Regions from separate parts of the Homo sapiens genome. Here region 1 is linked to region 2. The links come from fine-mapping of genetic effects on gene expression. Tissue or cell type: sun-exposed skin. Region 2 holds a variant in brackets; the other region holds the start of a gene. All regions are shown on one strand. Distances are between the middles of the regions.

Region 1 (8,188 bases), 38 kb before region 2:
TCTCTCTGACAGAGACAACCACTACTCTTATCTCTAACCATGTCAAAGATGAGTTTTGCCTGTTCTTGAAGTTAATATAAATGTAGTCATACTGTTCGTACTGTTTTGTGCCTGACTTCTTCAGCTCAATATGTTTTTGAGATTTTTCCATGGTGTCATGAGTACCGGCAGTTCATTCTTTATTGTTGTTGCATACTACTCCATTACATAAACATGTCACAGTTTGTTGTCCATTATTCTGTTTATGAGCAGTTATTTTTATTTTAGTGCTATTAAGAATATAGCTGCTATAAGCATTCTTGTGCAAATATTATTGTGTGTATAAAATATATACATTCATCTCTCTTGGACATATACCTAACCATGAAATTGCTAGGTCCTTGGGGGAGGTCCTTTGTCAGAGAGAGAGAGAGAGAGAGAGAGAGATAGTATATTACTGTATAAATAAATATGTGTTTATTTATTTTTATACACATATTTATTTATAGAGTCATGTGCCACATAATGACATTTCAGTCAACAATGATGGAACATACACATACAAAAGCTGTCCCAAAAAACTATAATGTCATATTTTTATTGTACCTTTTCTATGTTTAAATGTGTTTCCAGATAACAAATACTTACCATTGTGTTACAGTTGCCTACTGTATTCAGTACAGTAACATGCTGTGCAGGTTTACAGCCTATGAGCAATAGACTATACCATATAGCCTAAGTGTGTTATAGGCTATACCATCCAGGTTCATGAAGTCCACTGTGATGTTTACACAACAACAAAATCACTAAAGGTGAATTTCTCAGAATATATTCCCATTGTTACAAAAGATATGACGTTGTGTATGTATGTGTTCTAATGTGTGCGTTGGGGGGTGGGTGTATGAAGAGAGAGAGAGAATATTTTAACCCAGGCTGTAGCTTGCCTTTTCACTTTCTTAGCTATTTATCTGATCAACAAAAGGTTTTCATTTTGATGAAGTCTAATCTATTTATTATAGTGTCCTCCATGAGCTTAGAAGTCTTCTCATGGCAGAAGGTTATGAATATAATCTTCTGAGTTTTCTTCTAAAAACTTTAGACTTGAAATCTTCACAATTAAGTGTTTAATCCAACCTGAATTAAGTTTTATACGTAGCGTGAGGTAGAGATCAAGATGTATTCATTTTGGCTATACAAGTATCCACTTGATTCAGCGACAAGTATTGAACAGTATTGAAAAAACAGTATTGAAAAAGCTTTCCTTTTCTCATTGACTTGCTTTGGGATCTTTGTCAGAAATCAATTGACCACATATATGTGAGTCTATTTCTAAACTCTATATTCTTTCTCATTGATCTACTTTCCAACCCTTATGCCAATATCACACTGTTTTAATTGTAGTAGCATTATAGTAACTTGCATGAATTTACATTTCATTGCCACAAGCAATGAGAGTGCTATAGGCAGTGAATGTATCTGTTATCAAACTTTGATTTTTTTCAGTTTGATAGGTGGAAAACTAAAATATCTCAGTATAATTTAAATTTACATTTCTCTTTTCATGAGTGACATTGAGCATTTTTTCTTATTTTAAGTGCCTTTTGTATTTTCCTTTTGGTCACTGTCTAGAGTGTAATTGTAATATTGTTTCCCAGTTTGTCATCTTGTCTTCTGGTTTTACAGGTTGTATTTTTCACCCAAGCACAAGTTCAAACACTGTTATTTTATGGAGTCAAATCTAACAGTTTTTTACGGCTTCTTAATTTTGAGTCATCATTGGAAAAGTCTTCTGACTCCAAATTTATAAAATAATTATCCTTTTGGGCATATTTATTATTTATTTTTCATATCTCAATCTTTGATCTACTTGTAATTCGTCCCACTGTAAAGGATGAAGTATGGTTTCAACATTCCCTGCCCCCACACCAAAGGGAATACAAAATTGTCCCCAAAGTACATATAATACATATAACGGTCTACCTTTTCCCCATGGCTTTTATTTTGTATTTTATTTTATTTTATTAAAAATGAAATCGCACTGTGTTGCCCACCTGAACTTGAACTCCTGGGTTCAAGTAATTCTTCTGCCTCAGCCTCCTACAGAATGGGAGAAAATTTTTGCAATCTGTCCATCTGACAAAGGGCTAATATACAGAATCTACAAGGAACTTAAACAAATTTACAAGAAAAAACAAACAACCCCATCAAAAAAATGGGCTAAGGATATAGAAAGACACTTCTCAAAAGAAGACATTTATGTGGCCAACAAACATATGAAAAAAGCTCATCATCACTGGTCACTAGAGAAATGCAAATCAAACCACAATGAGATACCATCTCACACCAGTTAGAATGACAATCATTAAAAAGTCAGGAAACAACAGATGCTGGAGAGGATGGAGAGAAATTGGAACACTTTTACACAGTTGGTGGGAGTGTAAATTAGTTCAACCAATGCAGAAGACAGTGTGGCAATTTCTTAAGGATCAAGAACCATAAATACAGTTTGACCCAGCAATCCTATTACTTGATACATACCCAAAGGATTATAAATCATTCTACTATAAAGACACATGCACATGTATGTTTATTGCAGCACTATTCACAATAGCAAAGACATGGAACCAACCCAAATGCCCATCAATGATGGACTGGATAAAGAAAATGTGGCACATATACACCATGGAATACTATACAGCCATAATAAAGGATTAGTTCATGTCCTTTGCAGGGACATGAATAAAGCTGGAAACCATCATTCTCAGCAAACTCACACAGGAACAGAAAACCAAACACTGCATGTTCTCACTCATAAGTGGGAGTTGAACAATGAGCACACATGGACACAGGGAGGGGAACATCACACCGGGGACTGTGAGGGGGTGAGGGGCTAGGGGTGGGATAGCATTAGGAGAAATACCTAATGTAGATGACAGGTTGATGGGTACAGCAAACCACCATGGCACTTGTATACCTATGTAGCAAACCTGCACGTTCTGCACATGTATCCCAGAACTCAAAGTACAAAAAATCTCATAATTCAAGAAAAAAAAAAAAGGATGAAAAGGGGCCACTAGCTGAGGATGTGGACAGCCTGTAGAAGCTGGAAAAGGCAAGAAAATGATGTTCCCCTAGAGCCTCCATAAAGGATTAGCAGCAAGTAACTTTCTGAAGAAAATGCTGAGTAAGTATTCCTCAGAAAGAAAACACACCCCTTTCAATGAATCCTATTTAAACATCCAGTATAAACCAACACTGTGATACATTTTTATCTAATGTAATACCACAAGCAAACACCAAGCACTAAAAATGTTATAAAATGTGGACTTTGGAAAACCAAAAGAGAGCTAGTCTCTTTTCCAAGAAATTTCTTATTAGCAATCAAACCCTACCTTTTCCCCATGGCTTTTATTTTATTTCATATTTTATTTATATTTTATTTTATGTTATTACATTTTATGGAAAGCTAAAACATAAATCTAGCAATTATCTTTAAAACAAGACTTTTAAAAGACTAACATTTTAATTCATACTCACATTGTCCTGACACTGAAAATGGGGAAACCATTTGGGCAGAACAAACTAAAATATTGACTTCTGATTTCTAAGTTTACCAATAATTATTAAACATTAATAGTTTCCCTTTTCTAGAGAAGAAAGGAAAAGAAGGATGAACTCATTCCTGGTTAAGCTCAGTGCCAAGTGGAGAGGTCAACAAGAATGTAATGAACTTAGTATACTCACACCTGCTTAATAATGGATGCTGTTAGGACAGTTCCTTTTGAAGACATAATTTGAAGCTCTGGGTCCAATAGACAAGTAGTAGTTATGATGGGTAATAACTTACTAACAGCCTAAATGCACATGTTTATGAGACAAATAACTCTTCTTAAGCAAGTAAAAAGCAGACTAATAAGATGTTCCTACAGGATTTGATATAAACCTGAGAAAGGAAAACATCCCACCTGTGTGACACCACGTAGAAGAGAGGCTATATAAGCACTTCAAAGAGGAAAACACCAAGAGCCTTGGAATTCAGACTCTGTGGAGGTGGCTTGAGCTTTTCATCCTGGTGACCACAGACCTGGAACAAACTAAAGCCAGACACATACTATGGACACCAAGGGCTGTACAACAACCAATTCTCCTTCAACCCCATGTCAAAACTGCTCTAGGATTACAAATGTTAGTACCATCTCTTCTAACAACGGCTGCCATCCTGGTGGCCTTACAGTCAACAACTGTCAACCAGCTGGCCACGTTCTCAGAATTCCCTGGGACCAGGGCTGCCAACCCACTCCTCGCTTTTGTCGCAAGCCCATCTACCTAATGAACAACTTCAATGCCCGTTTTTCTCTGGATGACTGCAGCTGGTATGGTGAAGGCATCAACAGTAATGAGAAGGAGACCATGCAAATCTTGAACGAGCGCCTTGCTAACTACCTGCAAAAGGTGCGAATGCTAGAACGAGAGAATGCTGAACTGGAATCTAAAATCCAGGAAGAAAGTAACAAAGAGCTCCCTGTTCTATGTCCTGATTACCTGTCTTACTACACTACCATTGAGGAGCTCCAGCAGAAGGTAAGATTCCTAAGAACCTGTTTAATCGTGTTGTGAATTAATGGTTTCCAAGCAACAGTTATTTGCTAAACTTTAATATTTTTTGTTCAGTTGATGCTGAAAATTTTTTTGAAGAATAGAAAAATTTCTTGAGTGAAATTGTCATCTTGAGGCAGCATTCAGAGTCTGATAGTATTTCTGGTCAGGCGCAGTGATGCACACCTGTAATCCTAACACTTTGGGAGGCTGAGGCAGACAGATCACTTGAGCCCAGGAGTTCTAGACCATCCTGGGCAACATGATGAAATTCCATCCTTACACACACACACACACACACACACATACACACACAAAAAAAAATTAGATGGGCGTGGTGGCACATGCCTGTGGTCCCAGCTACTTGGGAGGCTGAGGTGGGAGGATCACTTGAGCCCAAGAGGTTGAGGCTGCCATGAGCCAAGATCCTGCCACTGCACTCCAGCCCAGACAAAAGTGAGACTATGTCTTTAAAAATCAGAAACAAAAAGAAGAGTCTCATGGTGTTTCCTTTCTCCAGAAATACACTCTACCATTATAACTAGATGACTCAGGACCAAAAGATGTTAACAGCAAGTTGTTGCCATTTTTTAAATAAAAATAGGGAAACAGAGATCAGAGAAAATAAATTTTGCTTTAATGAGTTTCTAAGCAATTTAGTTTTTATCCATTTTTCAACCATCACCACCTTTTTCTCCTTTTATGCTTATGTTATCATCTCCACATTGCTTGGTTTGTTTCTACACCAAACCTAAGTTTGTTATGCACAGACGTATTCTGCTACTACATATCTGGATTTATTCAGTTTTATTCATTCAACAAATGTTTACTGAGCAGCAACAACATTGGGCCAAACATTGTTCTAGATTCTGGGAAAATATTGGTGACCTTTAAAAAGTCCCTGCCCTCATGGAGTTGACATTCTAGTGGATCATGGTATTTATATAAATTTAGGATGGATTTTATTTTATTTTTTATTTATTTATTTATGTATTTATTGAGATGGAGTCTCACTCTGTCACCAGGCTGGAGTGCAATGGCGCGATCTCTGCTCACTGCAACCTCCAGCTCCCAGGTTCAAGCGATTCTCCCTCCTCTGCCTCTCTAGTAGCTGGGTCTACAGGCACGCACCACCACACCCAGATAATTTTTGTATTTTTTTTTTTTTTTGAGACGGAGTCTCGCTCTGTCTCCCAGGCTGCAGTGCAGTGGCGCGATCTCGGCTCACTGCTAGCTCCGCTTCCTGGGTTCATGCCATTCTCCTGCCTCAGCCTCCCAAGTAGCTGGGACTACAGGCGCCCGCCACCACGCCCAGCTAATTTTTTTTTTTTTTATATTTTTAGTAGAGACGGGGTTTCACCGTGTTAGCCAGGATGGTCTTGATCTCCTGACCTCGTGATCTACCCGCCTCGGCCTCCCAAAGTGCTGGGATTACAGGCGTGAGCCACTGCGCCCGGCCAATTTTTGTATTTTTTAGTAGAGACAGGGTTTCACCATGTTGGCCAGGATGGTCTTGATCTCTTGACCTCGTGATCCGCCCGCCTCAGCCTCCCAAGTGCTGATATTACATGGGTGAGCCACTGCTCTCAGCCTGGATTTTTTAACAACAACAACAAAAAAAATACTTAAAAGTTTCTAGTTAAGTACTTTTTGCTGATCTTTTAGGAAAATAACAGGAAATCTGACTTTCTGAAGTTTTCCAAGCTTTGTGAGCATAGCTATGAAGATTAATAAAAAGTCTACTTAGCCTTCCCCTGTTACTTGACACACACACAAACCCCTTGGTTCTTAAAGAAGGAAATCTTGGTGTTTGCTTCATTTGTGTGTACAATCTCTTAATTCTAGATCTTGTGTACCAAGGCCGAGAATTCCAGACTGGTCTCGCAAATTGACAACACCAAACTGACTGCAGATGACTTGAGAGCCAAGTAAGCCCACCCAACACCGTCATCAATGACAGAGCTCACCCTGAGTCTGACCGAGATGCCCTCAACAAAATTGTCCCCATGTCTACTAACCCTCTTGCCCCAGATGATGTTGGCACAAGCCCAGAAAAGACTTTCAAATTCAATGAATGATTAAGATTAATAACTGCTCACATGTATACAGTACCTATAGTTTCTAACTTGTGAACCCATTTGATTACCTACACAATAGTTCAGTAAAATAGATAGGACTAATATATTGTTACTCTCTTTAAGGTGAGAAATCTGTGGCTTAGTGAGGCTAAGTTACTCACCCAAAGGTAAGCATAACTAGCACAAGTCAAAACCGAAACTTGGACACATGTTTTCTGAGCCCTAATCCAGTGCTTTCTTCACTTACATTGCATTGCCACTAGGGGCAGAGGAAGGACAATAAATTCCCATATCTCAAAGAACAGCAATGTAGATCCCCCTAGCAAACTAATTTGGGAATAATAATTAAGTTATGATCTATATCAAATGGTTTCACCTCCAAAGAGAATAAAACTTCTAATAGAAATACACTAAGTGAGGTGCCCAGAGCAAAATGCAGATGAGAGTTCTGCTTGGCTTGGTTTGCATCATCTCCTTTCAGATGTCTCTCTTTTCCCATCTGGTTTTTAAAGATACGAAGCTGAGGTGTCTCTACGCCAGCTGGTAGAGTCAGATGCCAATGGCCTCAAGCAGATCCTGAATGTGCTGACCCTGGGCAAGGCCGACCTAGAGGCACAAGTCCAGTCTCTGAAAGAGGAGCTCCTTTGCCTCAAGAACAACCACAAAGAGGTGAGACAAAGACCAATAGAGTAATCACAAGCTAAGTCCCTAAAAGTAGCATCAGTTCCTTTGAGTTGCACCTGACAAAGGGTGTGCCCGCTTGTATTAGTTCGTTCTCACACTGCTATAAAGAAATAACTGAGAGTAGGTAATTTATAAAGGACAGAAGTGTAACTGAGTCACAGTTCCACATGGCTGGGGAGGCCTCAGGAAACTTACAATCATGGCTTAAGGGGAAGCAGGCACATCTCACTTGGCAGCAGGAGACAGAGAGAGACCAAAGGGGGAAGAGCCCTTTATAAAACTATCAGATCTTGTGAGAACTCACTCACTATCCTAAGAACAGCATGGGGGACACCACCCCCATGATCCAATCTCCTCCCACTAGGTCCCTCCCTTGACACATGGGAATTATGGGAATTACAATTCGAGATGAGATTTGGGTGGGGACACAGAGCCAAACCACTGCTACGTACTACTCTGGTTTAGCCCTGAAAATACCTACTGCTACTAGCACTGGTTCAAGGTAGTATTTCAAATCCACTGGCTCCAACACAATATCTGGAGCCATAAGGGGAAGAAAGGCCTCCAACATCCCCTCCAGCTTTTCTACAAGAAGGAACCCAATTTTTCTGTCCTTACAGTCTTCCCATGTTTGTAGGCATCCCTATACAGGCTTCTGCCACCTCCCATTGGTACAAGTCAATATTGGTGCAAGTCAATATTGGCACAATCCCGTATTTGCACCATAGAGACTATAATCTCTCATGATCAATTCCACCTTTATCCTGTTTCACCCATTATCCAGCCCTGGAAATGATCTAAATTTTTTGGAACTCTGGTCTTGCTACTCATTTTTTTTTAATTTTGCACAC
Region 2 (8,188 bases):
CCCACCATGAACAGCAAAAGTCTGAGCAGGCATCTCAGCATATAGAACCTGGGGATGTTCACAGTGTAGTCACTGAATCTATAAAAGTGCTAGATTTTTAAAAAGAAAGGTGTATTATTTACTTTTTTCTGAACAAATTCAGTTTCGACCAATTTTTCACTGTCTATAATATGCCGATAATATGCTATTTGACATTATTTGACATACTCTCTTCTAATTCTCATAACTCTTTGATGAAGTAACTATTGTTATTGCTATTTTATGGATGAATAAACTGAGACTCAGCCAAGCTCACTCAGCCAATCTCACCCAGCCAGTAAGCGCGGAGCAGGATCCCAGGCCCTGCTCTTTGAGTTCCAGACCCAGCATTCATGCCATCTCTAAATCCTGCTATTGTGCATTCATGATACCAAATTCCATGGGATCAGTGGAGCTTTAAATAGGACCAGACTTTTAAAAGGTGCCTTTGTACTGAAGTATAGCTTTGTCCTAAGAAAATGCTTTCTAAATAAAGGAATGAGCTATGTAAATATAATGGGAATTACCCAGGATTCTCTGACTCCAACTAAATTACAGAAACTTAGAGCTAAGACCTCTAAGGTCCTCTGTCTCTAGTACAGACTCCTTATTTGACAATGGATGAAACTGAGGCCTGGAGAGTAGAGTGATGCAGCCTGATGCATCCACATGGATGGTCAAGAACAGAGCCAGAACCAAAGAAAAGCTCTAAGTTTCTAGTCCAGCACAACACTTGGCGTAAAAGCATTATTACACTTTTGACAACGAGACATCTTCTACCCTAAAGACAGTGACATACATCAAATGTGTGCTATTTCTCTGACTATAACATACCTACAAGTGTTTACAAATCATAAATGTATACACACTTGCTCGAGTAAGTGCTTTCAATACTATTTTTCTTTTCAAAGTAAAAAAAAAATTATACGAACATCTAGTGAAAGTCTTTAACTGGAGGCTTTACCACTACTGAAGCTTCTTAAGCATTTTCCTTAGATGGTAAGGAATTATTTCAGTTAATATTTTAATAGCTACAATGAGCACATTCTCATCACAGAATAAGTTGCAATGACATAAACACACCTTCAAGTTACAGTCACTTCGGGCAAAAAAAAAATGTGTTCTGTGATGACTATTACAAAATACATTGAATATTAGTGTTAGCGTTGCTCAGTAACACTGATTAGAAACATGATTGCTATCACAAGTAAGAATTATGTTCACCTGAAATAATAATTTTTGTATTTTTGGAGGGCTGAACTAATTAAAAGTAATGGCAAAAATCACTTTTTCACCAACCTAATACAATAAGAAAAGGATCAGAACCTAAAGTCCTTTTAACATCTTCAGCTGTGGATGAGCTTAATTAAGCAAAATGCTATGACATGTCCATAACCTAAAAAGTTAGAGGGCATTTTGAACAATTACTGTCCTTCCCCTTCCTATATCATTCTTTCAGCAGTTGCATCAATCCAAGCCTGTCAAAACTCAACATAAAAAGAAAAAAGGCAGTAACACTGACTGCAGATCATATTCTTATTTTAAAATCATTCTGCTTTGCACCTAGTATGTGCTCACTAAGCATTTACTGATTCGGTTATTCATTGTTCCACTGCCAGAACAAGAAGTTGTCTGTACTAACAAGTCAAATATTCAGGAAGCTAGAGGACAGACATGCAGCGGTCATGTGTGGGTGTGTCCAAGTGAGATAACCTTTTGTGCTTTTGTGCATGTTTTACAGATAGTGGATGGTAAGATGACCAATGCTCAGATTATTCTTCTCATTGACAATGCCAGGATGGCAGTGGATGACTTCAACCTCAAGTAAGTTCCTTCTTCACAGGGTTGTTCGGGTTTTTGTTTGTTTGCTTTACAAAAGGAAAACTCGGCGGGGCGCGGTGGCTCACACCTGTAATCCCAGCACTTTGGGAGGCCAAGGCGGGCGGATCACGAGGTCAAGAGATCGAGACCATCCTGGCCAACATGGTGAAACCCCATCTCTACTAAAAATACAAAAATTAGCTGGGCATGGTGGCACACGCCTGTAGTCCCAGCTACTCGGGAGGCTGAGGCAGGAGAATCACTTGAACCCAGGAGGTGGAGGTTGCAGTGAGCCAAGATCACGCCACTAACACTCCAGCCTGGCAACAGAGTGAGACTCCATCTCAAAAAAAAAAAAAAAAAGGAAAACTCATCTTGCCATTACCCGCATCTAAAATCTTATAATGAAAAGGCATAGCAACGGCAAATGCACTGTGTGTTACTTGAATGAACCTTAGTTTAAACAAATCAGATATAAAGCACATTATAGTATGGGGAAGTTTGAATATGAATCAAGAATTAGATGATATTAAAGGGTTGTTATTAATGTTTAGGTGTAGTGTTATGTTTATTTTATTTATTTATTTATTTATTTATTTATTTGTTTATTTTTGAGACGGAGTCTTGCTCTGTTGCCAGGCTGTAGTGTAGTGGCGTGATCTCGGCTCACTGCAACCTCTGCCTTCCAGGTTCAAGCGATTCTCCTGCCTCAGCCTCCCAAGTAGCTGGGACTATAGGTGCACACCACCATGCCCAGCTAATTTTTGCATTTTTAGTAGCAACAGGGTTTCACCATGTTGGCCAGGATGGTCTCAATCTCTTGGCCTCGTGATCCGCCCGCCTCAGCCTCCCAAAGTACTGGGATTACAGGTGTGAGCCACCGTGCCCGGCCTGTTTATTTTAAAATATATTTTTCTTAAAAGATGCATCCTGAAGTATTTAGTCTTAAAATGTCATCACATCTATAATCTGCTTTAAAATACTTCAGCAATGAAATAGATGAAGCAAATATGGCAAAACATTCATGGTTGCTAAATATAGATAATGGGTATATGACTGTTTATTATCCTATTCTCCCTACTCAATTTAAAAGTTGACATTGAGTCACCATCATGGAGAAGTGTAGCATGAAACTGGCATAAAAAAGACATCCTATATGTATTCATTTGCTCTCTTTAAACCTAAAAAGTAAAAGATTCACCTCTAAATGAAAATGAATCCTTTCAAAAACCATGGCCTTCCAACAATGAGTGCACTCTTCTCTTCCTTCTCACCAAAGGTATGAAAATGAACACTCCTTTAAGAAAGACTTGGAAATTGAAGTCGAGGGCCTCCGAAGGACCTTAGACAACCTGACCATTGTCACAACAGACCTAGAACAGGAGGTGGAAGGAATGAGGAAAGAGCTCATTCTCATGAAGAAGCACCATGAGCAGGTACAACTCCCCAGGAACACCTGCTAATAAGCACAGCTCTTAGCCTGCACATCTCAGGCTGATTCGACAGCTACAGAAGAAACCACCACCTGGATGCCAATCCCCTTGTCCTTCACCCTAAATAGTCTTTAGAAAAACATACAAATATCTAATGTTTCTAATTTCAAGGTTAGCTAGTCACATGTCAAATACAACAACCAAAATGCAATCATAATTAATGATGAATTGGTCAACAGTTTTGTTAATACACAATGTTTACCTAGATGTGCTTGTTAATGTTACTATAAGAATCAATGCGTGAGACTGGACTTCCATCACTGGCCCAATGTTCAGCAAGTTAGGGGACAATATAATGAAGAGAGTCTGCTACCAACCAAGATAAGTGTGATGTGGGGCAAAAATAAAGAATCCTAATTTCCAGAAGCATTTAACTGACTTTTAGAGTTACCATCCATCACAAGTCCTCAAGACTCTGATAAAATGATAGAAAAACAGTTCCCATTTTAGGAAAACAAAATTGCTTCTCAACATCAAAGAGCTCAGTTTCTGAATAGCTGGTTAGACAATGATTGTTAATTAAACCTTTCCTGTGGCTGCTTGGTTTTCATGAAATCCTATGGGCGTCAGCCCTACAGTGTCACAAGGCATTGATGAGATTTTGAAAGCCTCTACACCTTCTTTCTGCTGTTTGCCTCTTGAACTGCTTCCCAAAAGCTTTGGCCTATAGCCTGTAAGGTTCAGCTGCTTAACTATGTTGTCACTTCACCAATCCACATCTGCTGAACAGGACTTTGCACACTATGGAAGCATAATTCTTTCTGAAATATTTTCAACCACGGATCAAGTCAGTAATCATGGAGGCTATTTGATTACCTGCCTTATGATATTCTTTTTTTTTTTTTTTTTTTTTTTGGAGACAGGGTCTCACTCTGTCACCCAGGCTGGAGTGCAGTGGCGCAATCTCGGCTCACTGCAGCCTCCACCTCGCAGGTTCAAGCGATTCTCCTGCCTCAGCCTCCCAAGTAGCTGGGATTAAAGGTGTGTACAACCACACCCAGTTAATTTTTTGTATTTTTAGTAGAGACAGGGTTTCTCCATGCTGGTCAGGTTGGTCTCAAAGATATTCTTTATTTTATAAAATTATTAGAGAAAAAAGTATACAATGTTTTATCACCAACAAGTAAGTAATATTTGAGAAACCAAACCAGTGACAGTGGGAGCAACCACATAATCGGAATGTTTAAAAGATCTATTTACCACTGCCAATCAACATGGCAATCCAGCCTTCTGATTGTCAAAGCCGGTTCATTTCCTTTCTCTGTTATTAAATAGGAAATGGAGAAGCATCATGTGCCAAGTGACTTCAATGTCAATGTGAAGGTGGATACAGGTCCCAGGGAAGATCTGATTAAGGTCCTGGAGGATATGAGACAAGAATATGAGCTTATAATAAAGAAGAAGCATCGAGACTTGGACACTTGGTATAAAGAACAGGTAAAAGAAAGATGCACA[A/C]ACTTCCCAAAGGTTGCATTTCCATGAGGTCCCAATGCTGACGCCTTTGCCTTGCTTGGTCCCACAGTCTGCAGCCATGTCCCAGGAGGCAGCCAGTCCAGCCACTGTGCAGAGCAGACAAGGTGACATCCACGAACTGAAGCGCACATTCCAGGCCCTGGAGATTGACCTGCAGACACAGTACAGCACGGTGAGTCAAGGCTAGGAAAACCGTGAATCCCACACCACCTCCTTCACGAAGCCTTCTGAGACCTCTCTCCCAGGCCCTGACCCTCAACTCCCTTGGGACAACTCTCACTTTCCACTTTCCATCCAAATTGTTTATGATGAGAACCATAATAAAGGGCTACCATGTATTGAGTGTCCCGATGGTGCCAGGCATTGTGCTAAGTAGTTCATGATATTAAATGTCATTAATCCTTACAGTAACCTTCCCAGATAGGTCTTAGTGTCCCCATTTTAGAGATGAGGAAACCAAAACTCCAACAGTAAAATAAATTGGCCAAGGTCACACAGCTAGTAAGTAACTGGTGATGAAACCATATGATTTATTTGGAGGAAGGGGGATTCTAGACCCCCATAATTTCTATCAGTGCCCTCTCCACTTACAACCAGGCTACCCCCCTCAAACCCCAATGTAGAGAAATTCCAGTGCCAACATGGTAGGTGGCAGATCCAGGCCTGGCTAACTCCAAAGCACTGCCCTATTCATTTATGTATATGTCTTATCACCCAGAAAACTCTAAGTTCTTGTGTCCAAGTCATTTCTATCATCTTCACAGTTTAGAAAAATGCTTAGCATGGTCATAAGCATTCAAAATTTATGAAGGTCTATCATTTGATTCCCAGTATACCCTATTGAGTCTTCTAATCATTCATCCATATAATTGCCAAGTGCGATTCTACCCTCAGTCTTGAGAGGCAATGATTTGTTCATTTATGTTGCAGGTGCACTTGGGTAAATGACTGCTGTGTTTTATGCATCCGTGATGGTGAACAGACACTGCAAATGTGCACGTAGAGATCATGAGTACAAAAATAATTATAGTGCAACTTTCAAAACGTTTTAACATACAGTATTTCACAATGGCCCTGTGAAACAGGCGAGGCATGTATACCCATTTTCATGCATTCTACTATCTGACACCAATCCTTAGCACTGAGGATTTTTTAATGAAGGAGTTTATATTCTAGTAGGAGTGACAGATAATAAATGTGCAAATCATCAAAATATATGTTAGATGGAGAAAATTGCTACAGAGATGAAGCAGAGGAGGAGGGCAGATGCACCAGGGTGAAGAGCTGCTATCTTAAACAAGGTGGTCAGGAAAGGTTTTCCTGTTAGAGTGGCAGTGAGCAAAGAGGTAAGGAGGTGCTTGATGTGGTGATGGGATGTGTTCCAAGAGGAGGGAACAGCAAGTGCAAAAGCGACAAGGCACAAGTGTGTCTGATGAGTTGGAGGAGCAGCAGGGAAGTCCATGTGGCTACAGTGAGTGAATGAAGGGAAGAAGAAAGGAGAGAAGAGGAGGGGAAGGGAGGGGAAGAGGGAGGAAGACAGGGTGAGGCCGCGGAGTCCCAACAGAACCAGACAGTGTAGGGCTTTGTAGGCTACCTTGGAGGGGTCTCAAGAGGAACAGCAGGCATAGACAACTCTTTGAGGAGCTTTGCTGTAGCTGAAGGAGAGCAGAGAAATTGGATGATAGCTGAAGGTAGATATGGGTTTAAGAAAGATATATTTTAAGGTAGGAAAAATTATTCTATTTGAAAGCTGGTGGGAATAATCCAGAGAGAATATTGATAACGCAAGAAGGCGGGCAACTGCCGAGATGACTGGAGCACAGACAGCTCACACAAAAGAACAGAGGGAAGCCAGCACCCAGATGCAGATTCAAGTATGTGCCTGGGAGCAATGTAGGGAGCAGTGGGCGGTCTCTCCCGATTGCTTTCATTTCATCAACAAAATTAGGAAGCGAGGCCATGGACTCCGAGGAAGGATGGCAAGGACAGAGGAGAGGGAACAAAATAACCTCCTGGGAGAGTAGGAGACTGGCTGACCAGGGAAATGTGCTTTAACCGCCAGGCAGCATGAACGGCCCCCTGAAAATTAGCAGCCACGATAAAGGGAGAGTATCCAGCACAGTTAGGAGATTCTCTTTAAGGTTAAAATTATGCGCTTCAGAAAAGCAGGTGTTACATGCAAACAGAACTGGGACTTGAACTCAATCCTCCATATTCTAGCCCAGAAACTTCATTTGGCAGCTGTTAGAATTTCCTCAAAAAATGACATTTTTTTTTTTTACCATCGTCATAATCAAAAAGCATTGCTTGAGACTAGGGTTGCCAGATTTACCAAATTAAAATATAGAATACTCAGTTTAGTTGGAATTTCAAATAAAAAGCAATTTTTTTTGCATGTCCCATGCAATACTGGAGCAATATTTTGGACATAGTTACACTAAAAAATTACTCATTACTCATCTGAAATTCAAATTTAACTAGATGTTCTCTATTTTATCTGGCATCCCTAATTGAGACCCTTCTCCGAAGATACAAAGAGATAGCAGTCCCAGTTGCTGTCGCTCTTTGGGAGTTTTCAATCAGGTCAAAGATAAAATGAAAGGAGTTAAACAACAGTTCAGAGCAAGGCAATGGACTTCAAAAGTCCTAACACTGCTCAACTCCTGACTGCCCAAGTCCCAAACCTGTAAGTCAGCCTACTTCTCATCTTGGTGTCCTCAGCAGCTACCAAGACACCTAGCCAACTGGTCGACATCTGCTAAGTACTCAACAATCACCTGTTATTGACTCAATCAAGCCATCAGTTAATTAACAGAAGATCATTTCCTCTTTCAGAAATCTGCTTTGGAAAACATGTTATCCGAGACCCAGTCTCGGTACTCCTGCAAGCTCCAGGACATGCAAGAGATCATCTCCCACTATGAGGAGGAACTGACGCAGCTACGCCATGAACTGGAGCGGCAGAACAATGAATACCAAGTGCTGCTGGGCATCAAAACCCACCTGGAGAAGGAAATCACCACGTACCGACGGCTCCTGGAGGGAGAGAGTGAAGGGTAAGGCAAAGGCTGGCACGAGAGGAGCATGCGAGGGACCTCCAGCTCCTGTGGGTATATGTGTGCATCTTTGGGTTCTGTTAGCAAGAGTCACTCTAGCAAGAGAAAAGTTGTGTTGAGCTACTCCAGAAGATACCTATAGCTGGCTGTATTTCACTAAGCAGCAAGTATAATTAATCAACTAATACTCACAGGACACTAAGATTTGCAGTCAGAAGAGTTAAAGTCTCTAGAAGGAAACAATTCAAAAGGATTTGGCCACTGTGTTTCCCAGTAGGAATGCACACAATTTTGGCTCCAAAAAAAAGAAGGCAGGGGGAATGTGTT

Which allele goes with the higher level. Alleles are on the strand shown, and positions count from the first base shown. SD is a standard deviation of normalised expression in the study named.
For the expression in sun-exposed skin of the gene that starts at base 4,001 in region 1, allele A in region 2 goes with a higher level than allele C (small effect, 0.31 SD a copy in GTEx).

Evidence for each region. PIP is the estimated chance that this variant, and not a neighbour inherited with it, causes the effect.
Region 1: KRT39 starts here. The variant in region 2 is fine-mapped to the expression of KRT39 in sun-exposed skin (GTEx, PIP 0.98).

What each region holds. Positions count from the first base shown.
Region 1 is chr17:40,962,761-40,970,948 of GRCh38, reverse strand. KRT39 (keratin 39) reads left to right here and starts at 4,001. Exons shown (of 7, transcript NM_213656.4): 1 at 4,001-4,560; 2 at 6,421-6,503; 3 at 7,166-7,322. The coding sequence starts at 4,093. The region is part of intron 1 of LOC107985072 (a long non-coding RNA gene); the gene reads right to left.
Region 2 is chr17:40,925,027-40,933,214 of GRCh38, reverse strand. It overlaps KRT23 (keratin 23), which reads left to right. Exons shown (of 9, transcript NM_015515.5): 3 at 1,760-1,842; 4 at 3,119-3,275; 5 at 4,608-4,769; 6 at 4,855-4,977; 7 at 7,641-7,861. LOC107985072 (a long non-coding RNA gene) reads right to left here and starts at 4,612. Exons shown (of 4, transcript XR_001752886.2): 1 at 4,533-4,612. The variant A/C (reference allele first, on the strand shown) is at 4,788.